Linked DNA regions of Homo sapiens: all the other regions are linked to region 1. Evidence: fine-mapped expression QTL. A gene starts in region 1. Each other region holds a variant in brackets. All regions are shown on one strand. Distances are from middle to middle.

Evidence for each region. PIP is the estimated chance that this variant, and not a neighbour inherited with it, causes the effect. A credible set is the group of variants that fine-mapping cannot tell apart.
Region 2: its variant is the best candidate, but not a certain one, in a credible set for the expression of ZNF638 in whole blood (INTERVAL, PIP 0.59).
Region 3: its variant is the best candidate, but not a certain one, in a credible set for the expression of ZNF638 in whole blood (TOPMed, PIP 0.54).
Region 4: its variant is the best candidate, but not a certain one, in a credible set for the expression of ZNF638 in blood mononuclear cells (TOPMed, PIP 0.90).

What each region holds. Positions count from the first base shown.
Region 1 is chr2:71,327,228-71,335,336 of GRCh38, forward strand. It overlaps ZNF638 (zinc finger protein 638), which reads left to right and starts at 4,555. Exons shown (of 28, transcript NM_014497.5): 1 at 4,555-4,648. RefSeq lists enhancers at 4,148-4,835, 4,836-5,521 and a silencer at 4,355-4,564.
Region 2 is chr2:71,364,788-71,372,896 of GRCh38, forward strand. ZNF638 (zinc finger protein 638) reads left to right here. Exons shown (of 28, transcript NM_014497.5): 6 at 642-919; 7 at 3,595-3,741; 8 at 5,096-5,218. Among named protein-coding and RNA genes, the nearest start is that of ZNF638, 37 kb to the left of the region's middle. The variant C/T (reference allele first, on the strand shown) is at 4,124.
Region 3 is chr2:71,428,403-71,436,511 of GRCh38, forward strand. ZNF638 (zinc finger protein 638) reads left to right here. Exons shown (of 28, transcript NM_014497.5): 25 at 145-249; 26 at 2,925-3,026; 27 at 4,763-4,881; 28 at 6,340-6,659. The coding sequence ends at 6,405. Among named protein-coding and RNA genes, the nearest start is that of DYSF, 34 kb to the right of the region's middle. The variant A/C (reference allele first, on the strand shown) is at 3,366.
Region 4 is chr2:71,846,360-71,854,468 of GRCh38, forward strand. No RefSeq gene overlaps it. Among named protein-coding and RNA genes, the nearest start is that of CYP26B1, 300 kb to the right of the region's middle. RefSeq lists a silencer at 2,820-3,114. The variant TC/T (reference allele first, on the strand shown) is at 4,666.

The DNA.
Region 1 (8,109 bases):
AGACCATGTGAGGACACGGTGGGAAGGCAGCCAACTGCAAGCCAAGGAGAGAGATGTCAAGAGAAACCAAACCTGTTGATACCGTAACTGTGGACTTGAAGCCTCCAGAATGGAGAGAATTAATTTCTGTTGTCTAAGCCACCCAACTTGTGGTGATTTGTTACGGCAGCCCTAGCACACTAATCCAGCAAGTGTTTCCAGCTCCCCTCCACCTCATCTCCCGTGTCCTCTCTTAATTATGCTGTTGTGGCCTCTTTGGCCTTTCTGCTTTCTCAAGTACAGCAAGCTGGCATTCACCTCAGAGCTTTTACATTTTACTTTCACTCTTCCTGGAATACTCTTCCTCCTAGATTCTATACTGCTTATTCACACACTTGTCAGATTTCTGTTCAAATGTTGCCTTCTTAGTGATGCCTTTCTTGACCATCTCATTTCAAATTGCAGCCTCTGTTATGTGTCCTGATCTTGCTTTGTTTTCCTCCATAGCGTTTGTCACCATCTGACATACTATAAATGTACTTGTTAATTGTCTGTCTCCTTGATCAAGGCTGTACGTGCCATGAGGGCAGGAGTGAGTGTTGCCTTTTGGTTTGCTACTCACTCCTTGATGGCTAGAATAGTTCCAGGCACAGAGTGCACCCTCAAGTAATATTTTGTTCTGCGTTCTTTTATGTAAGGGTCAGTCAGGTGCGGCCACAAGAGGAGTTCCAGGAGAAGCTCAGGGAAACAAAGTTTACTATGCTCCCAGGTCCTAAAAGCAGGAGGCACGCTCTGCCATACAGGGCCACATGAGGAAACACCCAAGTCTGTCAGGAGGCAGAAGGGGCAGGAACGAGTGGCAGGAGGAGGAGCCCAGGCCAAGGCCTTTATTGGAGTTTCTCGGGAAAGGGAAGACAGAGCAGGGTAAACAGCTCAGGACTGGCTAGTTTGAAACATTTCCACAGGCTCTAAGTTATAGGAGTGGTCTGTGGTTGCCTGGTACCTGACCCTGGGATGACTAAGGCAGAGGAATATTGCCTCCTGGGGTATACCTGCCAGATAGAGGAGGATGGCTCTGAATTGGTAGTTTGCATATCAAAGTCAAGCTCCTGGCTGAACTTTGCCTTCTCTAAGAATTGGCTAGCCCCAGGAGTGGCAATTTCTCCCCAGCCAGAAAGGTTAATAAGATGTCAAACATCATAATATACAGAAAATAAAAACATAAACAATACATATTTACTGGCTCAGTTAATGAAATGGCCCTGACTCAGAGGTAGACAGATAGATCGTTAAACCAGACTAGAAGAGCCATAAATCCATTTTTATACATGGGAATGAAATAGTTTTTGTTATTTGCTTTTTAAGGGGAAGATATATTTCAATTATGTGAAAAAGGATGGTTTACTTAACAGCTGGAACCTTCATGATTGCCTTTATTCATTTGGAAGAAAATGAAGCTAGATCTACCTCATACCATAAAAATTATGTTAGATTGATTAAACATCTAAATGTAAAAAATAAAATTGTGAGGTTGTAAACAAAAGTGAACAATTATGAACTGTGAAGTTTAGATAACTCAGGAGAATTTTGTGTAATTTCTGGGTGTGTATGCTTCAAGGGAGTGGGATGAAAAGAAGACTCAGAAGTCATAAATGAAAAGATTGATAGATTTGATTTCATGACCATTTAGTTTATAATAGCAAAAGATAGAAACAAAATTTCAGTGAGGAGAAACTAATTGCCACATATTTGACAAATATATAGTGAGAGCTACCTCCTGATAAGAGACAATCACTTCACTAGAAATATGCACAAATAATATGAAAAAGAGTTTTTTTAAATGAAGAAATACACATGGCTCCTGCCAAAGCCTGGGCACGGGAGCCTGGCTGGGAGTTCACCCTCGGCCCCTTTGTGTTGCCAGTTTATTATCACCAGATAAAACAGTTAAATGGAGACTTAAAAAAAAAAAGAAAGAAATACACCTGGCTAGTAGATATGAAAAGATGCTTGACAGTGACACACACACACACACGCACACACACACATACACACCATCAGAGTCATTCATTCTTTCAAGAAATATTTGCTGATTTTCTACTGCGTACCAACTATCATTCTCTGTATTGGAAATAAAGCAGTGAAGAAAACAGACAAATATCCCTGACCTCAGGGAGCTTACATTTCTAGTGGAGGAAGATGGAAAAGAAACAAATAAATAAATTATTGGTATATCAGAAGGTGATAAGTGCTGTGCAAATAAATAAAGCCATATAAGGGGCCCACATAAAGGAAATGAAAGAAATTTCATAAGTTACTTTGCCTAACTCTAGGGAAATGTTTGAAAATCTAGATGAAATGGATGCTTTTCAAGCAAAATATAAATTACCAAATTCATTGTGGAAGAGAGAGAAATTCTTATCCAACTAAATATCATAAAGTATCAAGAGAAAATTAGAGAAGAACAACTCTCAGAAAAAGCACCAAACAAGATATTTCAAAGGTGAATTATTTCAAACTTTAAAGAACAGGTAAGTCCAATGATATTTAAAGTATTTCAGGTTTGAGAAAGAAGTGAGTTTGTAGGGAAATGGTTATTTTCTTTTTTTTTTTTTTTTTTTTTGAGACAGAGTCTGACTCTGTCACCCAGGCTGGAGTGCAGTGGCGTGATCTCGGCTCACTGCAACCTCTGCCTCCTGGGTTCAAGTGATTCTCCTGCCTCAGCCTCCCGAGTAGCTGGGATTACAGGCGTGCACCACCACAGCCAGCTAATTTTTATATTTTTAGTAGAGATTGGGTTTCACCATGTTGGTCAGGCTGGTCTTGAACTCCTAACCTTGTGATTCACCTGCCTCAGCCTCCCAAAGTGCTGGGATTACAGGCATGAGCCACCTTGCCCTGCCTATTTTCTTACATATTTAGTGGAAGTGACACTTTGTAGAAACTTTTTGGGAAGTTTTTCTACAACACCTATTAAAATTAAATGTATGTACACACATATACATTTAATCTAGCATTCCCACTATGATGATTCTAGCCTTTAGAAATTAAAGCATAATTTGGTAAGTCTTTGTATACAGCAGTGTTTGCAGTAGCAAAAAGACTGGAAACAACTTCAGTGTTCAACAACAGGCTGAATAATTGCTGAGGCAGCTATACTATGAATATTATACAATTATTTAAAAAAGGATTATATGGTTTACTTGGAGAAATGTCAGTAATCAGAAAAGCAAATAGCTAATGTGTGAAAAAAGAAAACATTTCCTGTTACATGCAAATAATGTGTTTGTATGAATATAAAGAAATGTATGGAAGGAAACTTATCAAATGTTAACATGGGTTATTTGGTGTTTAGGGGGAGCTTGTTGGCTTTTTCTTTGTTGTTTTTGATTTGTTGTCCCTAGCAGGATTTTTGGTTTGAAATGAAAATCCGATAAGATATCTTTTTAAAACGACTTTTCTTTTTAGTCTTTCAAATGCTTGTTTTAATGTGAATAAAAGAAATGCATTTGCTTGAGTGCTAGGTAAAACCGATGTGTGAGACTCAGGGTGGGTGGTGTGATTTGTGTGGTATGCATACGGCAGGGCTTGTAGCTTTACCAGATTTTGAACAATGACTGGGTTTTCATATTGGTGTAGTACAGCCACCTCGAGAAGATAAAACATTGCATAACACAGTTCTTTAACGTCTGTCATCCCAAGGTTTTCCATGGGTAAAATGGAGATTACAAATATCTACCACACAGATAGGGCTTTTTATTGTGAAATGACAAAAGGATTTTCAGAGTGTTAAAGTTTTAGCTGAATAGCTTTGGTTGAATTCTACTTTACAGTTTTGAGTAGCTATGACACACATCATTGCCATAGGGATCAAAAGGTGCAAGGTGACAGGATAAAAGCAGGCAAAATCTTGACCATACAAAGCATTATATTAACGTGCTAGGCGCGAATATAACCTGTTATAATATAATGTTGTTATTATTATTTGAGATGGAGTCTCACTCTGTTGCCCAGGCTGGAGTGCAGTGGTGCAATCTTCCCTCACTGCAACCTCCGCCTCCCGGGTTCAAGCAATTCACCTGCCTCAGCACCCCCTAGTAGCTGGGACTACAGGCGCGCGCCACCGGCTATTTTTTGTGTTTTTAGTAACGGGGTTTCACCCTGTTGGCCGGGCTGGTCTCGAACTCCTGACCTCAGATGATCCACCCACCTCGGTCTCCCAAAGTGCTGGGATTACAGGCGTGAACCACCGCGCCTGGCCATATAATGTTATTATTGAAGGCACAAATGATCAGGGAAGACTTCATGAAGGAGGTGAGACAATATAGGTCTTAAAAGGATGAGCGGTTTGGAGAGGACAGGCACAGAACCAGCAAAAGAGTGAAGACGGCGCTGGAGTTTTTTTTTTTTTTTGCCGCACGCCTTCGCCGCCACCACGCGGGAGCGCCCCTTCCGGGAGCCCGCTCCGCCCGGCTCTTCTCGGGCTTCGGGCGAGCGCGGTGCCAGCGGTACGCAGGCGCCGGGAGCCTACGAGGGCTCGCAGGAGCTGGGAGGCGCGCATGCGTGCAGCTCTTTGGAGGCGGTAGCGTTTTCGGCGTCGAGACTGGAGGCTGAGTGCTAAACTGTGTGGGGCGCGGATGGGATCCAGCTGTTAGTCGGGTAGGCATAGGTAGGACCGCTGCCCTGTGGGGAGTAGGGGGTTGGAAGGCGGAGGCCGGTATCGTGGGGGTCCTGAGCCCTTCCTGTGAGATCCGGGCCGACTATTGTATCTGTGTCGCAGCGGCTCCGCACAAAATGGCGGCGGGCAGACGGCGGGGGCGGGAGGAGGTTGGGGGACCCCCGGGATGGGAAGGGAAGCTGTGCTGTGCTGCCCTGCTCCGTCGTTTATTCACTTCGCTACCCGGGAGGGCCCGTCCGGGTACTCGTGAAGGACCCTGCCTCGAGAAGAGCTGCCTGACGCCGTTGCACTGGGCCGAGGATCGTGAAGAGCCCTTTGGCGAGGCCGAGGCGGCCCCTTCCCCAGCAGCGCCCGGCCTGCCGAGGCTGCGCTGGGCCTGACAGCCGAGGAAGCGGTGGTGAGGGAATGCCGAGCAGGGAGGAAGCGTTCCCGTCGGGCCCGAAGAGGCGGTGGAGTTTGAGCCGAGCCCTCTGACCAGCGACATTGTGCAAGAAGCGTGGAGAGAAGAGCGTGTTTGTGTTTGGGGTTGGGGAGGGGGTGTCGGGATGAAGGAGGGAATGTTAGGATCCAGCGGCTTTTCCGGGCTGGTGTTCTGTGCTGCGTAGTGCAGGTATGAAACCAAAGAAAATATCACCTCTGTGGGAGACTGAGGACTCATAAATGGTTGTGATACCTAACAGTATTTCCAAATTTCTCAGAGGAATTGTGAAAACAGAACGTTAGTGAATTGTTTTTGTGTGATTCTTAGCTTGGGCCCCGTTCTCTTAAAGGAAGGGGGAATGTATATATCACAGACTGGAATCCTTGAGAACGTTTGAAATAGATCTTTTGTTGTTTGAGGTAATTGTTAATGAGGGATACTTCAGTATTACAAAATCATGGATTGAGCTATAGAGTGAAGGCTACCTGAAGCTAATTTTTCTTAATCTTAAAATTTGTCCTTAGGCGAAGTTTGGGGCCAGGACCAGAAATTGTAGTAGTTTAAAGGAGTCCCGATGAAAAACTTGTCACCAGGATCCAGCGATTTATGTTCAAGTACTTTTTCCAACGAGCTCTGGAATTTTGCACAAAAAATTTTCTGCTTTTTCCCCTCATTTGTTGTAAAGGATTATTTTTTCAGGGATGTTGTGCTTGCTGGTTCAGATTTACAATTAAAAATTGATAACCTGGAGAAAAGGATTGACCAAAAAAAGGTGAATTTAAGGAAGTTTTCGGAGAAAAACAAACATGTAAATGACATTCAAATAGCTTTAAATTTTGTTAATGATTAGACATTTGAGACTTAGTGGACTTATGTTGCTGTCTTTTAAAAAAGTTTGACAGCATTTTATATTTTATTTTGTACTCCATATTCTGTAATATGTACTTCTAAATAATTACAGGGCGTCCCAGCATGTTATACATTAAAATATGCTGGGCCATTCCTTCCTTGGGGATTTATTTGTCTTGGAACCAAGAAAGGGTAAATATAACAGTTGGAAGAAATCACAAAATCTTATTCGTTTTTATTAACTAGTTTTCATAATGTGTTTATGGTCACATATTTATTGTATATTGGTTGTATTTGTTTTGTAATCCTTTTTTGCATTTTGTTTTGGAGGGTGTATACGGCAGGTACTCTAGGTTAAAAAGGTTTAGGTACTGTAGTTTAAAAAAGTCATCACTTTGTACTTGACTATCTTAGGGTTTTTCTTGGGTGCTCTTAAGTAGGTGATCTCCGGAAATTTTGTTTTTATGTAAGTGGAAGAAAATGAGACAAGTAGTTTAGTGGAAAGAGAATAGGCTTTGCAGTCGGAAGATCTGGATTCACATCTCCCTTTTCCTCAGTATGTGTGAGACTTTGGTAAATTATTTTAGTCTTTCTTGAGCTTTTGTTTCCTTATCTCTAAAATGGTGACATTATTACTTCCTGCTTGGGATTTTTGTGAGTGACTGTTAAGTGAGACAGTGTATGGAAAGCTCGTATTCCTTGGCACATACTAGGTGCTTAATGTTAGCTGTTACTTGTATTTCAAAATTGAAGTGCTTAGGCAGCATTGTTTGATAGAAAATTATAATCTGTGGGTATTCTCTTCTAATTAAACGGCTTAAAAGGATTTAGAGTAATAGAATTTTGGAGTTGAAAGGCCCTCTAATCTAACTTTCATTAAAATATTTTGTGCTTCTATAAACTTTTTACATGCCTTTCTTGTAGAACTTATCAATATATATTGTAACCATTTATATGATTGTTACGTTAGTCTTTGTATCTTTCCCAGTGCCTGGTATGTATTAGATGCTCAGATGTTGAGTGAATGAACTCAGCTGGTAGTCACCAGAGCCTGGACTCTAAATCATGCTCTTTCCACTGTACCTTAATGTATACTGATTAAGGTTTGGACTAAATTTGTCCAAATCCTTAATAAAATGCCTTATATACTTAGAAACAGTACTTCCAGTATTGGTACCCAGTAACATAGCTTGGGCTGTTTTGCAAGGAAACAGGCGCTAATGAATGCTGCCATGTAGTGGTTTTAGAGACTCTCCAAATTGAAAGTAATTATGTTTGTGGCTAAAGCTAATAAGCCCTCATGTGTATCCAGCTTATCTACTCTTAATTGCTTTAACTTTGTTTAGTGTTTTGAAATTTGTGATGGAAAATTAAAATGGAAGGAAAATAAGTATATAGAAGATGAGAAGAGAATAATGGAAAGGAAAAAGAGTGAGGAAAAGGTGAGATGTAGAAATAAAACACACAACTGTAATAATGCGGGTGAGGGCCGGGTGCGGTGGCTCATGCCTGTAATCCCAGCACTTTGGGAGGCGAGGTGGGCGGATCAGGTCAGGAGATCTAGACCATCCTGGCTAACACGGTGAATCCCCATCTCTACTAAAAATAGAAAAAAAATTAGCCGGGCGTGGTGGCGGGCGCCTGTAGTCCCAGCGACTCGGGAGGCTGAGGCAGGAGAATGGCGTGAACCCGGGAGGTGGAGGTTGCAGTGAGCCGAGATTGCGCCACTGCACTCCAGCCTGGGCGACAGAGCTAGACTCCGTCTCCAAAAAAAAAAACAAAAAAAACTCCGGTGAGGGTTAAGAATAATAAGGGTTTTGGTTTGAAAAGAAAGTCCAGGGTTTTGGTTTGAAAAGAAAGTCCAGGAAACAGGAGAAATAGCTTTAACGTACATTATGTTTTTTTGCTTTGTTTTTGAGACAGGATCTCACTCTTTCTCTAAGGCCACCATGGTTCCCTGCGGCCTCTACCTCCTGGGTGCAAGCGATGTTCCTGCCTCAGTCTCCTGAGTAGTTGGGACAACAGGCACACGTCCCCACACTTGGCTAATCTTTTTTAAAAAAATTCATAGAGACAAGGTCTTGCTGTATTGCCCAGGCTGGTCTCAAACTCCTGGACTCAAACCATCCTCCCACCTTAACCCGCCTAAATTGCTGGGATTACAGGTGTGAGCTATTGCGCC
Region 2 (8,109 bases), 38 kb after region 1:
CTTTAATTATATAAGGCATTCCTTCTTAAAGTATGGCCCAAGGATCGATTGGGGTCCTCAAGATCTTTTAAGAGTTCTATGAGATCTCTTTTCTAATTACATGCCTCCATGAGGCTGGATTTTCTTTATCCAGAAGCAGATATAAGAATTTAGGTTCTTCTTTTAAGCTCAACATTAAAATGTGTGGAAGAAGGTACTATAGTGCTACACATTTCACTAATTTTGTTTTGGGAATTACAGTTGGTTTTTATAAAAATATTTATGTTAATATGGGAATTTACTTTTTTTGCCATTACTTTCAGTGGCAAAAACTGCAGTTACTTTTGCACCAACCTAACATATGAATTGATAAATATTTTTACAATTTAATTTCTAATATGGTAAATATCAGTAAATATAACACAAATCTTTGTAGTCTTCAATAAGTGTAAAGCAATCTCAAAACCAAAAGTTTGAGGATCACTGGTATAAGGGAATAAAGGAACTTCATGTAAAAGCCTTCTGAGTGCATAAAATCTAGATTTTTGTATTGTCTGTGTGCTCCCTGTTTAGCTTGAGAATAGCACTATGTGATTATGTCATGAGATGGCTCCTACCTTAATTTTTTTCCAATTGAAATTATATTTATATCTTTTTACTAGATAGAAAAAAAGCATTAGAAGATGTAGTACAACGATCTGGGCATGGGACAGAATTTAATAAACAGAAGCATCTTGAAGCTGCTGATAAGGGACATTCACCAGCACAAAAGCCTAAAACTAGCAGTGGAACAAAACCATCAGTTAAACCTACAAGCGCTACAAAGAGTGATTCAAATCTAGGAGGACATTCTATTCGTTGTAAATCAAAGAATCTTGAAGATGACACTTTGTCAGAATGTAAACAGGTGTCTGATAAAGCTGTTTCTCTCCAGCGAAAGGTAATTCTTTAATTAATAATTATTTTTAGAGATAAGGTTTCACTCTGTCATCCTCGCTGGACTGCAGTGGTGCAACAAGCATGGCTCACTGCAGCCTCGATCTCCTGGGCTCAAGTGATCCTCCTGCCTCATCTTCCCAAGTAGCTGGCACCACAGGCGTGTGCCACCATGCCTGGCTAATTTTTTAATTTTTGTAGAGATGGGGTCTTGCCATGTTGCTCAGGCTGGTCTCGAACTACTAGGTTCAGGCAGTCCTTCCACGTCAGCTTCCCTAAGTGCATGAGCCACTATGCCTGGCTTCGTAATTCTTTGTTAGTGCAAATATGCGTACATTTGCTATGACAAACAGAAAACAAAGTTGTTGCCAGGCATGGTGGCTTATGCCTGAATCCCAGCACTTTGGGAGGCCAAGCGGGGTGGATCGCTCGAGCTTAAGAATTTGAGGCCAGCCAGAGCTACGTGGTGGAACTCCCTCTCTACAAAAAATATAAAAATGAGCTGGGGGTAGCGGCGGGTGCCAGTAGTCCCAGCTACTTGGGAGGCCTTGGGAGGCTCAGGTGGAAGGATCACTTGAGCCCGGGAGGCAGAGGTTGCAGTGAGCTGAGGTCACACCACTGCACTCCAGCCTGAACTACAGAAGGAAGACCCTGTCTCAAGAAAAAAAAAAAAATGAAGTTGTCTTAACTTTTTTATTCCGTGTTTCCAATAACTTTGAAATTATGAGTTTTGTTACATGATTTTAGTATGGAATATTTTACTGGTTTTTCTTGTGAGTATAATAAAAGTCCAAGGTTCAAAATCTCGTAGCTTAGGAATTCCAGTGGTTTGGTATTTGATGTGTCAAAAGAACATTTTGATGGTTTGGCATTTTTGGCTAGCTTCACAAGCAGATCACTGTGATGAGTTTTGCTCTCTAATTGGGAAAATGAATAATCACCAGCAGCATTATTGAGCTTTTGTAATCTTTTTTAGTAAGGTATAAGAGTGAGCCTCTCCTGAGAATTGATCATTATTCATCTGTTCTATACTTTTTGTGGTACAGTTCAGAAGTCAAATACTCTGTTGTACAGTGTAAAATTTATACTTTGGTACTGATTTATTAGTGTTATTTTGACTGTAACCTACTGGTTACGATACTAAGGTATTGTTTTATTGTATGTGTTTATTAAATCACTATTAATATATTAAAACATCAAGAGACTATCTTCAGAGAAAATCCTAATAGGCCCAATATCAAATATTTTGTATATTTTAATATTAATAAGTCTTCAAGTATTTAGGTATGGAATGCATTGCTCTCAACAGTATTTAAATACATGAAAGACTTTCAGTAAGTGCTGTTCCCTGCCCCAAAGAACTTACATTTAGAAGGATAAACTTCTGATAATCAACCAGTAATTAACAGAATTTTGAAGAGCATTGGGAAGAAATTTTTGAGTATAGGGAAAATTTTGAAGAGGCTGAGTTAGTCTCATAATATGAAGTTCTTTTCATTTTGTTTCAAGACTTCTAGGTGGTGGCAGTGGAACTTTTTTTTTTTTAAGTTTTCTTATTTAGTAAAAAATAAGAGAAATGGGGGTCTCGCTTTCTCACCCAGGCTGGAGTGTAGTGGCACAGTCATAGCTCACTGCAGCCTCAAGTTCCTGAGCTCAAGTATCCTCCTGCCTCAGGCTCCCAGGTAGAAGACTACAGGTATGCGCCAACACACCCAGCTGGGTGTTTTAATTTTTTTTTTTTTTTTTTTTGAATCAGAGTCTCGCTCTGTCACCCAGGCTGGAGTGCAGTGGCGTGATCTTGGCTCACACAACCTCCGCCTCCCAGGTTCAAGTGATTCTCCTGCCTCCTGCCTTAGCCTCCTGAGCAGCTGGGATTATAGGCGTGTGCCACCACGCCTGGCTAATTTTTTTTATTTTTAGCAGAGACGGGGTTTCACCGTGTTGGTCAGGCTGGTCTCGAACACCTGACCTTGTGATCTATCCACCTTGGTCTCCCAAAGTGCTGGGATTACAGGCGTGAGCCACCAGGCCTGGCCTTTTTTTTTTTTTAAAAATATAGAGTCTTAGTATGTTGCCCATCCTGGTCTTAAACTCCTGGCCTCAAGCGATCTTTCTGCCTTGGCCTCCCAAAGCAGTGGGATACAGGCATGAGCCACCATGCCTGGCTGTAATTTTTAACGTAAGCGGTAAAGTTGATACTACAGTGTATTCAAATGGTATGCATTATATATGAATTTTTAAAAATATTATACCTGTCTAGAGATCATTTCCAATTATTAGAACAGAGGGGGTAAGCAAAGCTGTAATTTCAGCTTTACTTGTTGGTGGGCCATGTAGTTTCATAGAAAAATTCTCTCTAATGGCCTTGGAACATTCCATAGATCTTATTTGCTATAAGATGCTATCAACAGAAAAGAGCACCTGTAAACCATTTCTGGGTTAAAAAATATAAATAACATTTCTTACCACTTTTGCATTTAAAATCTTATTAAAGTGTTAAAATCGTGATTTAAAAATGCGTAAAGGAGGTGGTGAAGGAAAAAGAAAAATGGGTAAAAAATATGGAAAAGACCCTTTAGTGTACTAATATTAGTGGTAGAAGAAATTATATAGGAAATTATTACTGTACATTGTAGCTTAATTTGGTTTATTTTAAATTTTCTTTCACTCCAAAAATAGCTTCGGAAAGAACAGTCATTGCATTATGGTTCGGTTCTTCTTATAACTGAATTACCAGAGGATGGTTGTACTGAAGAAGATGTGAGAAAATTATTTCAACCATTTGGGAAAGTGAATGATGTCCTAATTGTTCCATATAGAAAAGAGGTGAGTCATTTAGTCTGTGGCAAAAATTCATACAAAGTGATTGCTTTAATGATTCTATAAATTGCTGTTGTGTTCCTTAGCTGCTTGTACTGCATATATAATTGTTCTTTGAGAGTTATATAAATGTCTGGATGTGAATAAGCAAGGCCGCAAAATAATGTTTTATATCCTTTAAAATAAGTGTTTGCCCACTTTTTCTGTAAAGGGCCAGCTAAATATTTTTGGTTTTATAAGCCATCTGTAGGATCTCAACTACTGTGCTCTGGCATTCTAGTACAAAAACAGCTATAAGTAATATGTAAATGCGCAAGCATGGCTGTGTCCAAAAAACTATTTACAAAAATAGGTAGTATGCCATAGTTTGCCAGTCATTACTTTAGAA[C/T]ACCAGTTAGATAATACTAAAACAAATTATTTCCTTTGTATGGTTAAGTATTTTCTGTGGGTTATATTCCTATAACTCACATGATAAAGTTAAGAACTGTGAACAGTTCTTCACATAAGCACAACATAAAATAGTTAGTTAAGGCTGGGCGTGTTGGCTTGTGCCTGTAATCGCAGCACTTTGGGAGGCTGAGGCAGGTGGATCGCCTGAGATCAGGAGTTTGAGACCAGCCCGACCAACATGGTGAAACCCCGTGTCTACTAAGAATACAAAAATTAGCCAGACATCTGTAATCCCACCTACGTGGGAGGTTGAGGCAGGAGAATCTCTTGAACCCGGGAGGCAGAGGTTGCAGTGACTAGAGATGGCGCCGCTGCACTCTAGCCTGGGCAACAGAGTAAGGCTCCGTCTCAAAAAAAAAAAAAAAAAAAAGTTTTGTGAGTTAAGGCTGGGTGTGGTGGCTGAAGTCTGTAATCCCAGTACTTTGGGAGGCCAAGGCTGGAGGATCGCTTGAGGCCAGGAGTTCAAGACCAGCCTGGGCAACATAGCAAGACCTCTGTCTTAATTTTTTTAAAAAGTTTGTGAGTCAGGACAGGGAACATAGTGATAGTGTTGTCTTTGTTGCAAGAAGCCTTTAAAATGTCAGACCTACCACAAGCTGGACCATATCTTCCCTTCCCTCCTGTTGTTCAGTGAGCCCTGCCTTCTCATTTCCTCTTCTTCCATGAGCCTGCCTGGATTTTTTTTTATCTTGGTAGTGGTATAGAAATTATGTAAGGTTAAATGTCCATTTAATGTGTGAAACATCCTTAATCAAATTATACTTGACCAAAATAAAAACAGGCAAAAGCAACCATGACTTGAGGTAGTTTCATAGTTTGATGTTACAAAAGAAAGGATTAAGCCCATTTTAAAATGCAGGAACTTTTAAAGATAGATTTGTGACTAAAGATGGAATAAATTTCATTTTAGGCTTACCTAGAAATGGAATTTAAAGAGGCAATTACTGCAATTATGAAGTACATTGAAACAACACCTCTTACGATAAAAGGAAAAAGTGTGAAAATATGTGTTCCAGGAAAGAAAAAAGCACAGGTAATCTGGATTTAGGTCTTAAATGTTTTATCACTGTTGTTTTAGTTTAACTTTTTTGTTTAAGTATGGCACACATATAGAAATAGGCATAGAAACATAAATGTTAGCTCAACACATTATATGTGCATTAATTCAAGTATGTTGAAATTAAAACTTCCTCATACATGTATGGTGCTATATACAGTATTAAATAACGACGACTAGGAGAAAATACTTGCCATATATAACACAAAAATAGCAAACATCTGTGAATCTGGTACCTAGGTCACAAAAGAGAACATTTGACAGTATCTGGAAGTCCCTTGCTTGCTTCTTCCCAATTCTTACACCCTCCCTTCTTCTCACAAGTAAACACTAACTTGATTTCTAATGCCATAGTTGAGTTTTGCCTGTTTTCAACTTTACATAAACAAAATCGTATAGTGTACATTCTTTGGGCCTTTACTTCCTTAGAAGTATCAAGTTTTGTAACTTTAATTTTTCTAGATCATTTCTGTGCTTCAGTTCATATGATCGTAGATAATATCTATAGAATTACTTTAAATTACCCTTTAAGGATGAGCTTTCTGTTAAGTAAAAAGCTATATGTATATCTCACCTGTAAGGTTTTCTTTGTGTATGTGTGTGTTTTTTAAAATAGGGTGTTGAGAAAATATTTTTATATCTTAAAAAAAATTATTGTATTTTTAATTTTTGTGGGTACATAGTAGGTATATATATTTATGAGGTACATGAGATGTTTAGATGCAGGCATGCAGTGTGTAATAATCACATTATGGAAAATGGGATATCTGTCCCCTCCAACATTTATTCTTTGTGTATCAAATAATCCAGTTATACTCTTATAATTGTTTAAAAATGTAACATTAAATTATTTTTTACTATAGTCACTCTGTTGCGCTAGCTAATACTGGGTCTTACTCATTCTGTTTTTTTTTGGTACCCATTAATTATCCCCTCCTCTACCCCCTGTTACCCTTCCCAGCCTCATAACCATCCTTCGACTTTCTGTCTCCATGAGTTCAGTTGTTTTAGAGCCCACAAATTGTGGGATTTTTTAGATACCACAAATAAGTGGGAACATGTGATCTTTGTCTTTCTGTGCCTGGCTTATTTCACTTAATATAATGACTTCCAGTTTCATCCATGTTATTTTAAATAACTGAATCTCATTCATTTTTATGGCTGAAGAGTACTCCATTGTGTTATGTACCACATTTTCTTTATCTATTCATGTGTTGATGGACACTTAGTTTGCTTCCAGATCTTAGCTAATGTGAACAGTGCTGCAAGAAACATGGGAGTACAGATACCTCTTCAATATACTGATTTCTTTTCTTTTGGGTATATATACCCAGCAGTGGGATTGCTGGATTGTATGGTTGATCCTATTTTTAGTTTCTTAGGACCCTTCAAAATGTTCTCCATAGTGATCGTACTAATTTACGTTCCCACCAACAATATACTGAGGGTTCCCTTTTCTCCACATCCTGGCCAGCATTTGTTTTTGCCTGTCTTTTGGATAAAAGCCATTTTAACCGGGGTAAGATGGTATCTCATTGTAGTTTTGATTTGCATTTCTGTGATGATCAGTGATGTTGAGTACCTTTTCGTGTGCCTTTTTGCCATTTATGTGTTGTCTTTTGAGAAATGTTTCTTCAGATCTTTTGCCCATTTTTTTTTTATCAGAGTATTAGTTTTTTTTTTTCCTGTAAAGTGGCTTGAGTTCCTTATATATTCTGGTTATTAATCCCTTGTCAGATTTTTTTCCTGTAAAGTGGCTTGAGTTCCTTATATATTCTGGTTATTAATCCCTTGTCAGATGGATAGTTTGCAATTATTTTCTCTCATTTTGTGGGTTGTCTGTTGTTTCCTTTGCTCTGCAGAAGCTTTTTAACTTGAAGTGGTCCCATTTGTTCATTTTTGTACAGCATTTGCCTGTGTTTGTGGGGTATTACTGAAGAAATATTTGCCCAGACTGATGTCCTGGAGAGAGAGTTCCTCCAGTGTTTTCTTGTAGTAGTTTCATAGTTAGAGATCTTAGATAAAAGTCTTTAATCTATTTTTATTTGATTTTTGTATATGGTGAGAGATAGGGTTCAGGTTCATTAATGCATATGGATATCCAGTTTTCCCAGCTGGTACCTCCCTAGGTTACATGCCATCCCAGCCCACTAGCTCTAATCCCAGCCCCAGCCCTAAGAGTTGCCTAGGAGTTGTTGTCCTTGTGTCCTAGACTACCTTTCAGGTTTACCTAGCACCCTGGAGCACTTTAGCCCATGGTAGTGAGACTTGCCAAGAAATTCAGATTCTTATTGCCGGGATGGATGAGTCCTCTTTGGCTAGGTCTGGTCCAAAGGCTCCTTCAGTGCATGGGTGCTGGCTGAGTACAGCATGGCTTTGCTGTCCACTGTGACAGAGCAGCACTGAGTTCAATGTAAAGTCCCCTAGTTACTGCGCTGTCCCTTCCTAAAGTGCACAGACTCTGTCCATGTTGTGGGGCCAGATTAGGGAGGTGTGCTGTCAGGGATTTAAGGCTGTCTCTGCTACCCTCGTCAATGCCTCTTTCAGTGATACAAAGTCAAAACCAGGTAGTATGAATGCTCACTTGATATTTGGTTCTTGTGATGATGCTTTTCTGTGTGCAGATAGTCGTTAAAATTTGGTGTTCCTGCTGGGGATGGGATGAACAGTGTAGGGTTCTATTCTACCATTTTGCTCCACCCAGCTATGTGTTCTAGTAATTTAATTTTTCTACTAGCTGTGGAATGGCTACTTTATAGAGGTTCTATAACACACATTTCTCAATAATTTGATTTGGTAGTCTAACCATGTTAGTGCATTCCTCATTCTTTGTAACTTCTCTATAGTGTTTCTCTGTATGAATATAC
Region 3 (8,109 bases), 100 kb after region 1:
TTTATATTAGCAGTAGGCTTCCCTCCCAAATTTGGGTATTTTTTGCAAAAATGTATAATGTTGATTCAGACAGTATAATATGTTTAATTTAAAGCAATTTAAATACTGTTACTAGAGCAATAAATTAGGACTTTCTTTTTAAAGCTAAAACTCCAACCAAGAGAGTTAGAATTGGGAAAACTCTGCCATCAGAAAAAGCTGTTGTGACAGAACCAGCAAAAGGTGAAGAGGCCTTCCAGATGAGTGAAGGTAAAGCAGGATTGTTGGAATGGGAAGGAAAGTTACACAACACAGGAGAGTAGTTGAAGTTTAAAGATCTATCTAAGAAGAAAAGTAGAAAATCAGTGGAATAGAGCAGGGGTGGGAAAAGTCAACTATAGTTATTAGATGTGGGTAACATTTTGATCTTTGTAATGTAGAGAGAATGGATTATTGATATTAGAATGTGACAGATTAGAGGAAATGATCCTCGAAAGGTTTTCTGACCATGTTGCAGCATCAGATAGAAATTATTTATTAACTAGCTATTATTTGTGGACCTTGCTTTGTTGATGCTTGTCAGCAGCCAGCCAATGAATTAAACAAGAAGCCTTAATAGCGTTTATAAAATTTAACTTGAAACAAATAAGGAAGGGTCTAGTGAGAGAGAATACTTTAGTCACTCAGCAGATACTTGTCATATTGTATTGGGTATCCTTCATAACAATGTTAAAAAGGGTAGACAAAAGAAAGTACATAGCTCTTGCTCTCAAGGGGTTTATTGATTCAGAGAGGTTAAGCAAAAAATCACCTTGCCAGTATGATTTAAATAGAGCACTGTAAGGGTATCGCTTTTACCATTCTCTTTGTAGCACCCTCATTGCCCTCTTTCTTTCCTATCCTATCTTCTTTAAGGAAAACTTACCAAGTATGATTTGGTCCAAGGATTTCAGGTGGGCTCTCAGTGCTGCTCCCAATATATTAGAGGTCTCCTTCCTTTACTATTTCCTAACCAGATGTAAAATTAGCTTTCCCCCCCTTCTACATCACCTAACCCGTTTCTCATTGGATGTCCTTGCTTTCGTTTTTATTTGCCAGAGTAAATCTAGGATCTCCCTTGTCTGCCAACTTATATTTTGTTTTATACACATAAAATATAAAATTTGGCCAAGTTTTTCCCATTGAAAGAAATATCCCTTTGACCTTGAAATCTCTCTAGCTCCTATCTTTTCTACTTGCTTTTAGAGCAAAACGTCTAGAAAGAACCACCTACTTTTACGTCTTAATTTCCCATGGAACTGAATGTATTTTGGTTTCTTTCTCCTACCACTTTCCTGAAAATGATGTTGATGAAACCCCCATTAGGTTGTTGTCAAACGTGATTTTTTAAAGTGTTTTCTTCTTAAGTTAGTCTTACTTGACTTTTCCACATGATTGGTTACTTTTGATTATGCCCTCTCTTGAAACTCTTTGCCAAGTCATGGTCAAGTGGGTATTCCTTCTTCCTTGTCTATTCTTTTCCATAAACAATCTTTGATAACCAAGCTATAGGTGGTGGTTCAGTAATTAGGTTCTCGCATGATTTCATGAGGTCACCCCCCGACTTCAGAATTTCTGTATGGTAGGGCAACCTTGGCAATCAGCTTGCTTAGAACTGCCTCATTGCAACTGAGTAATATAAAAGGATGATTTAGTTACTGCTTACGTAACAATATATTTCTACTAATGAACAATATGTTTTGACAAAAGGACCTAGCTTAAGAAAAAGTCATTTTTCCACACAATTGTAAACTTAAATCATTTATTTTAATCTATTTTAAATATATAATTTTAATATATGTTATATACTATTAAGATAAATGTGCCTTTGGAGTGGCAGGAACAGATATGTTTGGGAAAGTTTATTACCCTGATGAAGAAATAAACAATTATAGAAAGAGATTGGAGGCAAGGAAACCAGATTGTTTTAACCATCAAGTTAAGAAAAGGAAGATACCTTTTTCTTATTGATTGTAGGACTTGATGATCAGTAAAGTGTGAGGAATAAGAGTAAGTAATGATTTCAGAGTTCCTTGCCATCCCCTCAGGAATACTAAAGAGTAGCCCAGATGTATGGAGGGAACACTGAACTTGAAGTCACAAAGTCTTGGTTCTAGCCTGTGTCACTCACTAGCTATGCAACCTTGGGCATATCTGTTTATTACCTCTTTTGATTGTGCTTTCTCCATCTCTGAAGAAATAGGGATGGGTTAATAATGATTTCACGTGCCTATCTTACATGAGGTAAAAGCTAAATGAATGATTATATATGTAAAAGGGTTTTGTCAAGTATTAGGCAACAGTAAGGCATTTCAGCTACTGAGGGTAATCAGAATTGCTTGGAATCAGTCTTCATTTTTGTCTGTCCCCAAGATCATAGTATGCAGAGTCTGCTAACATTGAGTGCTTCTTACGTGTTACTCACTTTGGTGGGCTTTAACATTTATATTAATAATTTTACTTGTGTTTCTAACAGGGGTCTTAGGCTATCAGTTTAGGCTCCATTTTCTAGATTGGAAGGGCCTCAGTATTGGGCCATAGAATCAATTTCTGCTGGTATCCTTTTCCCTTAATCTCCACTCTCGGCTCAGCTTAGCACTTTGCATATATAAGTTCTCTTGCCAGTAATGATAGGACTTGTATTACTTCGTTAAATTCTGCCTGGAACATATATAAATAAAATTTGCTGTTAGCTTTAGACCTATATTCCTAAATCCATTTGAATGGATTTACCCATTTATTCCTTACATTAAAGAATCTTGGAGAATATTGTGCAAAGAATGGCCAGATGGGATTAACAAAGGGAGGTTTTCCCTGAGAAAGAAAAAGGTAAGAATTATCCAATGTTAACTTTACAAAGTCTGTAAATCTATTCTGAATAGCTTTTTTTCCTCGAAAAATTTTAGTTGATGAGGAATCTGGATTAAAGGATTCAGAACCAGAGCGAAAACGCAAGAAGACTGAAGACTCTTCTTCAGGCAAATCAGTGGCGTCTGATGTCCCTGAGGGTAAAGTTAAAATGACATTTTTTTCTTACCCATATGAAATTTAAAAGTCGGCCGGGCGCGGTGGCTCAAGCCTGTAATCCCAGCACTTCGGGAGGCCGAGGCGGGTGGATCACTAGGTCAGGAGATTGAGACCATCCTGGCTAACACGGTGAAACCCCGTCAGTACTAAAAGGTACAAAAAATTAGCCGGACGTGGTGGCGGGCGCCTGTAGTCCAAGCTACTCGGGAGGCTGAGGCAGGAGAATGGCGTGAACCCGGGAGGCGGAGCTTGCAGTGAGCCGAGATAGCGCCACTGCACTCCAGCCTGGGCGACAGAGTGAGACTCCGTCTCAAAAAAAA[A/C]AAAAAACAAAAACACCATAATAAGTATTCTATTGTTTTAGGTGAGTAATTGGGTAACCTTGGCTGCATTGTCATTTTATAGTGGAAATTTGCATGTTTTACACAGTGGCATTTTTGAAGACAGCTTACTGGGCTGTTTTTACCTGAGAAGGATATTTTTACTGCACTCTTGAAATCTGGGATGTATCTCCTCTTTTATTCCTGGTGCTTTCTTTGCCACTCTGGTGAGAATTGAGTTATATTTGCCCAGGCAGAAAGTCACTCCAGTTAAGCAGAACATGCTGCAAATCTTTGCTAGCCGACTTTGTTCATGGTCAGCTAAGGTGAGCTGAGGGAGACCTTATTCAGCCATCATACTCCTCAATCAGACAGTTGCCCATCATTCTACCTCTTCTCTCTCTTTTATTTTAATGGGATTCCTAAGAGGTTTATTTTTATTATATTTTATTTTGAGACAGGGTCTCATTCTGTCAGCCAGGCTGGAGTGCAGTGATGTGATCTCAGCTAACTGCAACCCTTTCCTCCCAGGCTCAAGCAATCCTCTCACCTCAGCCTCATGAGTAGCTGGGACTACAGGCGTCTACCACCACACCTGGCTAGTTTTTGTATTTTTGGTAGATACAGGGTTTCACCTTGTTGCTTAGGCTGGTCTCAAACCCCTGAGCTCAAGCAGTCTGTCCGCCTTGGCCTCCCAAAGTGCTGGGATTATAGGCTTGAGCCACTTCTCCCAGCCAGAGGTATATTTTAGACTGTTAGGTTCTTATCTAATGACTTGGTATTCTGAAGGATTATTGAACAGTTCTTTGTTATCCGAAGATTCTCCTTGGGAATCTATTCAACTTGGCATTATACCAAAGCAGTGGCATACTGGCATTCCCTAGAGGTTCTGGAATAGTATAGAATGTGTTAACGAAATAAAGACTTACGTTTTCTGATTAAAATTACTACTATTGATCCCTAAATTTATAGCAGTGTGTACTGTTCTTATATTTAAGTATATACTGTGCTTAATATTTTTGTCGTGTTTAAATTGATGAAGGCCAGTTGTGGCTCACACGTGTAATCCCAGCACTTTGGGAGACCAAGGCAGGCACATCCTATAGGGGAGGTCAGGAGTTCGAGACCAGCCTGGGCAACATGATAAAACCCATCTCTACTAAAAGTACAAAAGTAGCCAGGCGCGGTGGCGCACACCTGTAATCCTAGCTATTCGGGAGCCTGAGGCAGGAGAATCACATGAACCCAGGAGGCAGAGGTTGCAGTGAGCTGACATCGCGCCACTGCCCTCCAACCTGGATGACAGAGTGAGACTCCGTCTCAAATAAATGAATAAATCGATGAACACAACTGGAGATTAATTATTGTTAATTTTCTTCTTGTCTCTTCTTATCCTCTAGAATTAGACTTTCTTGTACCTAAGGCTGGATTCTTCTGTCCAATTTGTTCCCTCTTCTACTCAGGTGAAAAAGCAATGACAAATCACTGCAAGAGTACACGTCATAAGCAAAATACTGAGGTAATTTTAAAAATTCTTACAAAATCTTGAGGTGTTGTTATTGTCTTAGAATCAAATTATTTATCTCCCCAAACGTACATTTCCCCCCGCTTTAGGAGAATGTTTATGCCAGTTTATTCCTCTTAAGTCCTGTTTTCTCCTTCAGTGTACCTTGCCTGTAATTTCTAGTCCTTATTCCTTTTCCTTGAACAGCAACATTTGCCAGAGTAGATTCTGCAGATCACTAGTCTCATATGACACTCCATTATTAAAGTAAGAAACTGCATGTTTTGATGCCCTCTTGTCATGTAGACATTAGCATATTAAAGTTTCTGAATTGTCTAGCCAGAATGAATCCTGGTTAACTTCATGCAAACCATTTATTAAACTGATTTAATCACAAAACCTTTTCTAAATTGTACACATCTTTAAGAAGTGTTACTCTGGAGAATCATCATTAACCATAATTGAAGTGGTGACTCTAGTTCCTGCTGAATATTTGAGAGTTTCGTACATCCTCTCTGTTGAATTTGTGGCACAGACACTCATCTAACATTTACTGAGCTGTTCTATGCTGGAAGCTTATTTAATCTCCTCATGAACTTCATGAGGTAGATGCTATTATTCCAATCTTAAAGATGAGAAAATAGACTTAAGGAGGTTACGTATCTAAACCCAAGGTCACATAGCTAGTTAGTAGCAGACCTAGGATTTGAACTCCGCTCTATTTCATTCTAGGCCCAAGCTCTTATACATTGTGCTTTGCTACCTGTGTGCTTAACTTAGTTCATCATGTCACTTTTCCATTTAAAACCTTCTAGTAGCTTCATATTGCACTTGGTCTAATATCCAAACTTCTTATTTTGGGTCTTCAAAGCCCTGCATGATCTGATTTCTTTTCTACTTCTCTGAATGCTTTCTGTGTTTCAGCTTTTCTGGCTCTCTCTGTTCTGTTTTTCATACATGAGAGACCCATTGCTGCCTTTGCACCTTTATACTGCTGTTCTTTTGCCCCTTCCCAGTCCTACTCGCATGGCCAGTTCTTCATGTTTTTCGTCTCAAATATCAGTTCCCCAGAAAGGTCTGCTTAAGAAAGACCTAGCTAAGTAGAACCCCCAAAAAAGTTCAGCCTCAATTACGTTGTTGCACTGTCTTTAAAGTGCTTACCACCGCCCCCAAAGTATTTTATTTTTTTCTTTTATTGTTTCTCTTCTCCCATTAGAATGTAAGCTTTATTGTATAAAAGATTCTATCTGTCTTGTTGCCCACCGAATCCTCAGGCACCAAGTGTAATACCTGGTGTGTCATAAACATCAAATGACTGATGAATGAAAGGAAGAAATGGTTATATAAGGCACTGTGTTTATAATATTTTGTAGGATCAGTTTCTTTTAAATTATAAATATACAGTAGATAAGTTTGCACACATAGCAAAATAACGTCTAATAAGTATTTTATATTGCAAATTGCTTTTAACAGAAATTCATGGCCAAGCAAAGAAAGGAAAAGGAGCAGAATGAGGCTGAAGAAAGAAGCTCTAGGTGATTGGGGGAAAGGAAAGAATTCACTAGAAATTTGTTTAGGGTCCAGTTGATTTGTGTATTTTTGTTATCATTTAATTTGTAATTTTCGTTTCAGAAGCAAATATTCGTGTTGTACAAATTTCTGATTGCCCTAAATGTAGAGAGACTGATGGGGAAAGTATGATGGGTTTGATTTTTATATCAAATCATCAGGCATGGAGAAATATCTTTTAGAAGTGTTAAAATAAATGTTCCTACTGTATATTTAAAATACCATCTGTGTTTGTGGCTGATTTTTTAAAGACTTGCTTGCCTCTGATTGCAGACAAGGTTTTTCACTACAACTCCTGTGATTTGGGATGTTTGGGGATTCTTCATGTATCACTGGAAGTCATAGCATGACAGTGTTTTACTTTGCTTCAACCATTCATGTGTATACAGGTCATAGATTTCTTAAAATTCAAATTTTTTCTGGATAAAATTAGATTACAGCATATTTTCCCCAAATAGGTTTGAATGAAACTTTGCTTGATTTTTATATGTGTTGGAAAGGTATTTTTTCTGCTTCTGGTAACACTTGCTGTTTCTGCCAGAACCCATTTAAGGTAACACCAAGCTAGTCATTTATTATTAGCTTGAATCTACAGAGCAGCCATTACTTCTGTGGACCACCAGAGTAGCTTTTTAAACCATTTGAATTATAGTTGAATATGTTTATAAGAAGTTTTAAGGGCACAAAAAATAATTGAATGGCTAGCAGGTGATGGAAATAGCCCTATACTTTTAAGTTTTTAGATTGAGCCATTCTTCAGACATAGTCTGAATACTTATAATTGTTTTAGTATTTGATGCCTCAAGATAGAGTGCACCAATTAATAATACAAAGAGGATGAATGGAGGGGAACAACAACAACAACAACAAAAACCCTACTTTTTTTAGATGTCTTATTTCCATCACAGCACAAGAGACATCACAGTCAGTAAGAAGGGCTTGGAGAAAAAAAAAGGCAGCACCTCTTTGTCACCTCCTATGAAACTCACTGCATACTTAGTCGAGACTTACCCACAGCCTGAGTAAAATTACAGAATGCTACACGTCACAGACAAGGGGTGGGGTAGAGAGAGGAGCGGCTTGCTGTCAAGAGTTTGTTGGAATTAAAACCTTACAGATGAATCCGGATAATAAGAGGGAGAAGAGCTGTTAAAAGATTGGGGAATAAGGTGCCTGTAAATTACAGAAGCACAGTGATAGTGAATAAGAATCTTAGTTTTAAAGAATCTTCCTTTCTCCTCAGCTTGCTTTTGGAACTTTTGCAACTAGGGAAGTTATAAGCTTCTTTAATCTTGTCTGGATCAGTCTTTTGAAATTGGGATTCTAAATTAGAATGAGAGGAGGAGCTGCTAAAGCATAAAAATGGTAGGGGTGATTTTTGTGTTTTATCCTAGTGACCAATGTTGACCATTAATTGTACATTATAAATAATGTTTTTCTCTGGGACTTTTTGCACTTAATGCTGGTAATTTTTATCATAGGGCTTCAAATACAAAAGATTTGTATGAGGTTTTCAGAAAATAAACATGCTCTTTGCATATAATTTTAGTATTGTTCTTGGCATTTTCAGAAAATCTTCCTCCTTTAGTCACACCACACAAATGGAACGTCATATACATAGTAGTTTCTGCTTATTAGTTGATTGAGGGATATAATTAGGATTGCAGCTGACTT
Region 4 (8,109 bases), 520 kb after region 1:
TGAGTGGGAGTCTTAGTGCCTGAGGAGTGGCGGGGAGGAGCCATTGGGTATTTTGAGAGGAAGATGAGGGGTAGCAGAGAGGCTTGAGCAAGGAGGCAGGGCTGATGAGGATAGAATCAACGGACTGCTGGATCAAAGAGCCAGGCAGCTGACCCTTAAGGGGCTCTGGCAAATGCCATATCAAAAAAAAAGAAAAAAAAAAAAAAGAATTGTAACCAGTCTTGCTCTAATTGGAGAGCTCAATAATCTCCTTCTCCTCCCTCTCCCGTTCCCCTTTCTTCATCTTATTGTTTTTTAAACTAGAGATCAAATTGGCTCTCTGGCCCTGCCACTAGATTGCACCTGAGGAACCCAGACCAAGGGTTTGGCCAAGAAAGCCAAAGGGGAAGAGACTTCATGAGATGTGGGAATTGCAGGCAGGGGGTTATAGGGGAGGGAAGAGGTAGGGGCTGGGAAGGGCTGCAGCAGGGGTGAAGCTGTGGCAGCGGACTCAACTCAGCAGACCATCTCCTTCTAGTCACTCTTCCCTGGAGTGTCCCTTCGACAGGGACAAGGTTTGAATGAGAGGCCCTCAGAGGAAGATGCTCAGGCCCCAGGCCCAGGGACCTGAGCTGAAATCTGCTGCCTGAGGGAAGTTTGAAAAAGCTTGCCCTGATGGTAACTGTGAAGCTGTGATTACTCAGGGCTCCCGGCAGAGCTCCTGGCAAAAATCATAGGAAGTGACTGGTATGGTAATTAGTGTGACTGAGAAGTCCAAGTCCTGGTTGAGATCCAGGGTGGGGTTCTTTCCATTGTTCTGTTTCTCATCTCCTCAGCCACAGCTGGAACCTCTACCAGTCTCTGCAGGCTGAGTTTGACCCCAATTCCAGTGTGGCAGGGACCACTAACTGTTGCCCAATATCTGCTCTCCCCACCTTCTAGGTACATGGGAGGTGGCACTTCTCCATTCCTTAGGAATTAAGAGGGACCATGTGGCTTGCTTTGACTGAAGATATGTGAGCAGAAGTGTTGTGTGCCCCTCTGGTTAATCAAACTTGCCTGGCCATGCTCAGCTCTCCACCTCTGTCTTGTTGCAGCAGCTGTGTAGGCACCTGCTGATGTGGAGGGGCCATGTTAAGACATTGCACAGAAGAGCCTGCCAGGAGAGTCACCCAGACCTGCTATGTTAAGTCACTGATACTGAGGGCTATTTGTTACCATATCATCACTTTGCTTATGCTGACTGATACCAAACTGACTGCTATGTGGCTTCTGTGGGGCAGAGACGGAAAGTGGATAAAAGATAGAAGAGTTATCTTCCAGAAGTCTATAACACCCAGGGTTAATAATTTTTCTTTGGAGTTAATTCTGATCTGCAAGAACAAATTAACTAGAAAAGTGACAGTGGGAGGAATTCTGATGAATAGTGACCATTAGATAGCCAGTGAGATTTCCAAAAACTCTGAGAAAAATAGTCACTCATTAGTTCATGCATTCTGTTGGTTCTTCTACATTTATTCATAGGACAGTTGTGAGTGCCGGGCACTATGCTGCAACAGAGGAGATGGAGATTAGAATGGAAGGCCACTGCCTTTGAGAAGGCAAAGCCTAATAGAGGGCAGAGGCCCTTACAACCCCAGAATCTTGAGACAGATATGGTAAGGCTGAGGCAGGAAGATTGCTTGAGCCCAGGAGTTCGAGATCAGCCTGGGCAACAGAGTGAGACCTCGTCTTTACAAAAAATAAAAAAAATTAGCCAGGTGTGGTGGTGCATACCTGTAGTCCCAGCTACTCAGGAGGCTGAGACAGGAGGATCACTTGGGCCTGGAAGGTTGAGGCTGCAGTGAACCAAGCCATGGTTGTGCCACTGCACTCCAGCCTGGGTGAAAGAGCAAGACTCTGTCTCAGAAAAGAAACACAGAGAGAAGGGGGGTGGGGGCGGGGGGAGAGAGAGAGGCTTCCAGGGAAATCTTGAATGATTTTGATGAAGAAAGGAAAGAAAAAGCTTAAACTGAGATGTGAGAGGTGCAGAAACAAAAGGAAGAAAGAGAATCACAGCCCAGGTTGAGAAAACTCCAAGTGGCATTTCTGTGTCAGTCGCTCTTATGTTGCTATAAAGGAATACCTGAGGCTGAGTAACTTATAAAGAAAAGAGGTTTAATTGGCTCATGGTTCTGCAAGCTGCATAGGAAGCATGGTGCCAGCCACTGCTTCTAGTGAGGCCTCAGGAAACTTCCAATCATGATGGAAGGTGAAGGGAAGCCAGCATGTCCCATGGTGAGAGCGGGAGCAAGAGAGAGAGAAAGGGAGTGGTCTCCGACCCTTCTAAACAACTAGATCACATGAGAATTAATTGAGCAAGAACTCACCTATTACCAAGGCAATGATACTAAGCCAATCATGAGGGATCTGCCCATGACCCAATCACCTCCCCCCAGGCCCCACCTAGGAATCACATTTCAACAGGAAGTTTGGAGGGGACAAACATTGAAATCATATCAATCTCAGTCGCTAATTCCATGGACATTTACTGAGCATGTACTATGTGCCAGGCATGGTTCTAAATGTTAGGAGGATACAGCGTACACAAGGCAGGCCTGGAGATAATCAGTATTGGATATTGATATGAGAAATGTGTAATAAGGGTTATGAGAAAGGGGTTAATACAGAATGAGTGGCTCTGCCTGGGCATTCGGGAAAGGCCTTTATGTGTGCAGACTGCAAACGGGTTCACCGTTCACTCATTCATTCATTTAACCTCCTTTTAGGCCCTGTAAGCCTAGAAGGGGGCTGTCTGGGAGGGGCTGTGCCCTGACGCAAGGGCCCAGAGTCAGGCTGAACTGGGGCAGGCGTCTCCCCAGGGGGCAGGAGCACTGTAGCTGTGGGAATCTTGCATCCTGGTGACAAGGAGAAGCCACCAGCCTGAGCTGAGCCACACATTAAGGGACAAAGTGAGGGCTTTGGAAAGAAATGAGTCACATTGTCAGCATCTGAAAAGACAGGAGTCAGGTCGGAAAGGAGGGCGTAGGGGCCTGAAGAGCTGTTAGGAGCAGGCTCACCACGTCCAGAGCCTTGATGTGGCTGCATACAGGGGAGGGAGTTGCTGACCACAATTTTCTGGATCGATTTGGACTAAGAAAATTTTGTCAAATTTTAAAAATCACAAAAATAGACCTATTTTTGCTTAAAAAAAAAAAAAGAAAGAAAAGGAAAAACCACTGGAGAGAAGGGTCAGATACTTCTCTAAAATGGGCAGATGTTATTATGTGAGCTTTGGTGAGTACCAGGGAGCATCAACCCTCACCACCCTGTGCATGAGCAGTGCAAGGTCGTGTCTCAAGGCAGAAAGCAGGGATCCTGACCACTGAGTCTGGATGGTCACCGGGCAGCCGCCGAGAGCTGAGCTTCCCTGACTGGGGCCGTGAGACTGCCTGGCTCACACCTTGCGGAGGACTGAGACTCCCCACCCCCATGGCCTTCTGAAACTGCTGCAGACAAGGTTGCTTTCCACAGGCCCGGCTTCTGGGGGCCCTGGAACCCAGTGCCCAGACTTCTCTTCTCAGGCCAGGGCTATGGGGCTGTCACAGCACTTTTCACATGTGTGTGCGATTTCTTGGTTTATGTTGGTCTTTTTCTGTCTTTAATTAAATTCCTTTTGGAAAAAATCCATTTCCACAGCACCAAGGGATTAAAAGTTCTCAGTTTTGTTTTTGATTTTTGTTTTTACTCCATCTGTGCCATGGCTCGGGGCCCTTAGTGACTGACTTTCATGTTGGGGACAGCAGGCACCTGACTGAGCTGTGGGCGAGCAGGGGAATGGTGTTGAGTGAGGTGACAACTTGAGACCAGACAGGTGGCAAAGCTAATGAAAATTTTGCCCCCTTACTTCCATACACTGACCCTAAATGGCCACCCTCTTCAAAAAGGACCAGAGCCCCAAATACACACTGCTGTCAGCCCTGATCCCTCTTTAGTCCCTCCCTCCGAGACCCTCCCCTCTCGTCCTGTGTGGCCAAGTCCCAGCCTGGACACTCTGTCTTCAAAGGTAAAAAACAAAGCCGGCTTGTTGCTCCATATTTGTCTTGGGAGTGCTTGTTCCTAGGAGAGCCTCCTGGCCTCCCAGGCCAGGAATAGCACCAGTCTACAAGGCCAGCCTGGCTGCCCTGCCAGCCCTTCTGAATTGCTTGTTTTTATTAAAATTCTTCTGCACGCGCAATCCCTGATGGTGTGTGGATTTTGGATGAGGCGGTGTGGGGGACCCGGGGAGAGGAAGGCCCTAGGCTTATTGGGCCTGGTGTTTATTTGGCCTGCCTGTCCAGAGTGATAGAGAATGGAAGTCCATAAAAGTGACCCAGGATTTGTGCCCCAGAGCTCGGCAGGATGTGACACAAGGCCCATGGCAGGCTTGGACTGGGTCTGGGCTATCAGCCCCCAGATGATATGATACAGAATAGCTCTGGAGAGCTGCAGGAGTGGAAAATGACATGGCTCCGCACTGTTGCACAAATCATATGAGAACTGCTCCCTCTCGGCTTCTACCTGCAGGCTCGGGCTTGGCAGCTGTCCCCTGGCCAGATGCAGCATTTTGAAGCAGCCAGGGCCCACTGTGGCAGCCTCAGCAATATAGAAATGGCCAGGAGCAGAGTTGGGCACCTTGGCTTCCAATTTGTTCTGAGTCTGGTCTGG[TC/T]CCAGGCTCTAAACCCAATGCTTTTCGGGGCTGTGTGTCACCTTCCCAGGCCCACATATTTCTCAGCATTCCTCACCTGGTCTCGGAGGGGGACAGTGCCCCAACTCCAGGGTAGAATCTGTTCTGTATGGTTGGACTTACACACAGAAATTCTACTACCATCATTCAATTCAATTTACCTGGATATGGATTTCCCTCTTGCCCCACTGATCCCCACTCTCCTGGGCCTTTAAGTGAGTCATTCTCCTGGGAGGTCTGGGGTAAGACAGGCAGACAATGACAGACAGTGGCATGGGAGCTTCCAGCCGAAGAGTGCACCTTTCAACATCACAGCCAAAGGCCTAGATGCATGCTCTCCCTACAGCCTGGGCTCTGGGCCCCTGCTGAGGTGACCACCCCCACAAGACCTACGGGAACGTGGTGGAGGGTGTAGGGGTGGGGGAGCAGTTTTCAAGTCAGGAAATTGCAAAAGTTCCAGCGTCCGCAGCCAAAGGCTCAGTGTGGAAAATTTCAGGCTCCAAGCAGGGTTCCAGAGGAGGAGGAAAGGAGCAATGGGGCCAAGATACTTGTCCCCAGCTTCCCAGACCTGGGCCCTCCCCTCACACGCAGGAGGTGTGTCAAGAGCCCAGGGCAGAACTCTCTAGTAGAAACCTCTGTAGAGTCCAGGGGCTGGCTCACACACCTTCCCGACTGGTCAGAGAGAAAAATGCATACAAAACAATCCTAGCTTCCAGGGAATGCTACAAAGGAATCCCAGCCCTCAGTGTTCAGAGGGAAACTGAGGCACAATGAAAGGAATCTGCTGTAGATAAGACCAAAGTTTCATCGTAGGGGACTGTCTCACCCACATATCGGGCAAGCGTCACAGTTCCACATAGGAAGGGGTGTATGCTCATGGGGGAAGGTTCAGGGTAGGACTGGTGGTCTTGGAAGGTCTCCCCTCTCCTCAGATTCTTTCTGGGGACTTGCTCTAGGAAGAGCTGAGGCTCAGGGTAGCCAGAACAATGAAGTGGTGGAATGAATTGGGGAGTGGGTGCCAGGCATGGAGGCCAAGAGTGTCTGCAGCCCTGCCAGCCAAGACTTCCTCACTGCCCGTTCAGCCCCTACTGCCGTGTACCCCCGGTGGGTCCCTGCTCTGCGGCAGGCATGCTCCAAGTGGCAGGGCTCCCACCTGTCATCAGGAATCACCAGGGCCCCACAGGCAACCCGGTGACCCCGCGTCCTGGCCAGGACTGTTTGACCGGGCCTAGGGGGAGCCGCCTGCCCGCCGCCACCAGCATCTCCGCCGCCTACTTGGGCCTCCTCGGGGCTCCTGGAGCCGGGCCGAGAGCGTGCAGCCTGCCGGCTTGCGGCTGGGGATTTCACTCGGAGCCGCTACATTTGGAACCCATTATTTAATCATTAATTTCCTCCTCTCGTCGACCCCTTCCACCCCGCCTCAGCTCGGCGCCCCCGCCCCAGATTAGATCTCCACGTGGTGCTTTGCAGTGATCCTTGACAGGGCTTCTGTGCTGGGGACGGGAGGCGGGGAGGGGAGCGGCAGCTGGGGCTGGCCCAGGGCTGCTCGGTAGGTTGGCTGGGAGGGAAGAAAGGGCAGCCCGGAGCCTGGACCTGCGGGGCTGGAGGGAGAAAAGTATCCAGACCCTGACCCCAGGAACTAGTGGTGTGAGCTGTGCCTGGCTGAAGGTGTAAGAACAGGGACACTGCTCCCTCCCCTCAAAGCTCAGGGCAGTCCAGCTGACCCAGCCCCGGTGTTTTGAGGTCAAGGGCACCTGAAGCTCCTCTAAGCCTCTATGTCCTGCCGTGGAGCTCCTTGCCCCCATTCTACCTTGGGGGTGTGTGGGGTGGAGAGAAGGTGAGTGGGGGATGGAGGCCCATTCTGGGTAAGGCTGTAGTCTGTGCCCTCCACTGTCCTTCCACCCCCAGCCCTGTGCCCATCCAGGTAACGCGGCATGGCTCACCTCAGAGAGCTCCCAGTCAGACCCAGGAGGTTGTAGGGAGCACCTCCTGGCTGAGTGAGTGACCAGGAGCCTCTATCACACTTTGCAGGACACAAGGGGAGGTGAGGCTGAGGGTGCCCACACTTCCTGCACTCTCTGTCCTCCCACAGACCCTTCATTACATGCTCCAAGATCAGAGAGCTGAGGGATTCCTGGGTAGGGGCAGCGCTGAGGACACTGTGCACCTGGGTGGGAGGGACAGCACTGGAATCAGGGAATAGGGAAGGAAAACATGCACTGGTGCCCACTATGGACCCTGCCTGCATGCTGGGCACTTTTCTGACCTTGCTGTGTCGTTGCCAGAAGCAGCAGCCACACTGGCTATAAGATGTGCTTTTATGTGCCTGACCATGTCCTAAGCCTTTTATATCCCTTACCTCACTGTAACACTCCCAGCAGGCCCAGGGGAGGCACTACTATTATGCTTACTTTAAAGATGGGGATACTGAGGCTCAGAGATACATGAAGCAGCTCTCAAAATCAGAAGAATCAGGAACAAGATTGAAAGCCTGTGCTCTTCCCAACACTTAAGAAGCCTCTAGCTGCAAACCTCATGGTTAGCTGGGCTGGGGTATGAACCCAGGCCCCCTCTGTCATTCCTTACCCCCTATCCCTGGAGAGAGCTGGCCAGTCACTGGCATATCTCAGTAAGAGATGCTAAAGGGACAGAAATTTCTCTTGCTCACAACTCCACTCACAGCAAAATGCCCTCCCTCATCCCTCCATCCTGAAACACCATCTTCTTCCAAGGCCCATCTCAGCCAAGCCCTCCCTGACATCCCCAATCTCTTCCTTGAATTCTTAGCAGCACTTAAAGGCCGAGATGCATTTCTTGCCCTTGTTCTGATGTCTCCAGAAGTTTTCTATGGGTGAGACTTTTCTCTCACCAGCCTGGGAGCTCTTGAGAGAAATACCATCATAAAAGTGCCCCTGGGCCGGGTGAGGACCCAGAGGGCAGGATGCTCAGGTTCCAACTCTGTACCGCATTGCCTCACCGCTGCCCACAGCGGGTGCCACACGGGTATGCACAGGCCTGGAATCCAGAGGGCAGGCCTCCCTTTCCTTCATACACTCACTGACCACAGTAGCAGCTGATTGCTGGCTGAACCTGTTGAGAGGCTGTGGAGAGGCATAGGCTCAGCCACCTCCCACTCCCACTCCTGCTACAGATGCTGAAGCTGGATGCTAACTTCCCATGCGACTGGGATGGGGGCATCTGATCAGGGCTGGAGACTCCCTGCCTGGACTCTAAACCAAACCCAGGACAGGGAAGAATGATTCTGGTGGTCACTTCAGCATCAGCAGCCTTCAGTTTCGAGGGAGAGCAGCAGCAGCAGTGCCAGCTGTTGTGCCCAGTGTTCAGAGCTGGTGCATCTCAGAGCCCCTTCTGTGACGTGCTTTGGGCTATGCCCTGGCTTTTCAGCCTTCCACTACTCTCATCTG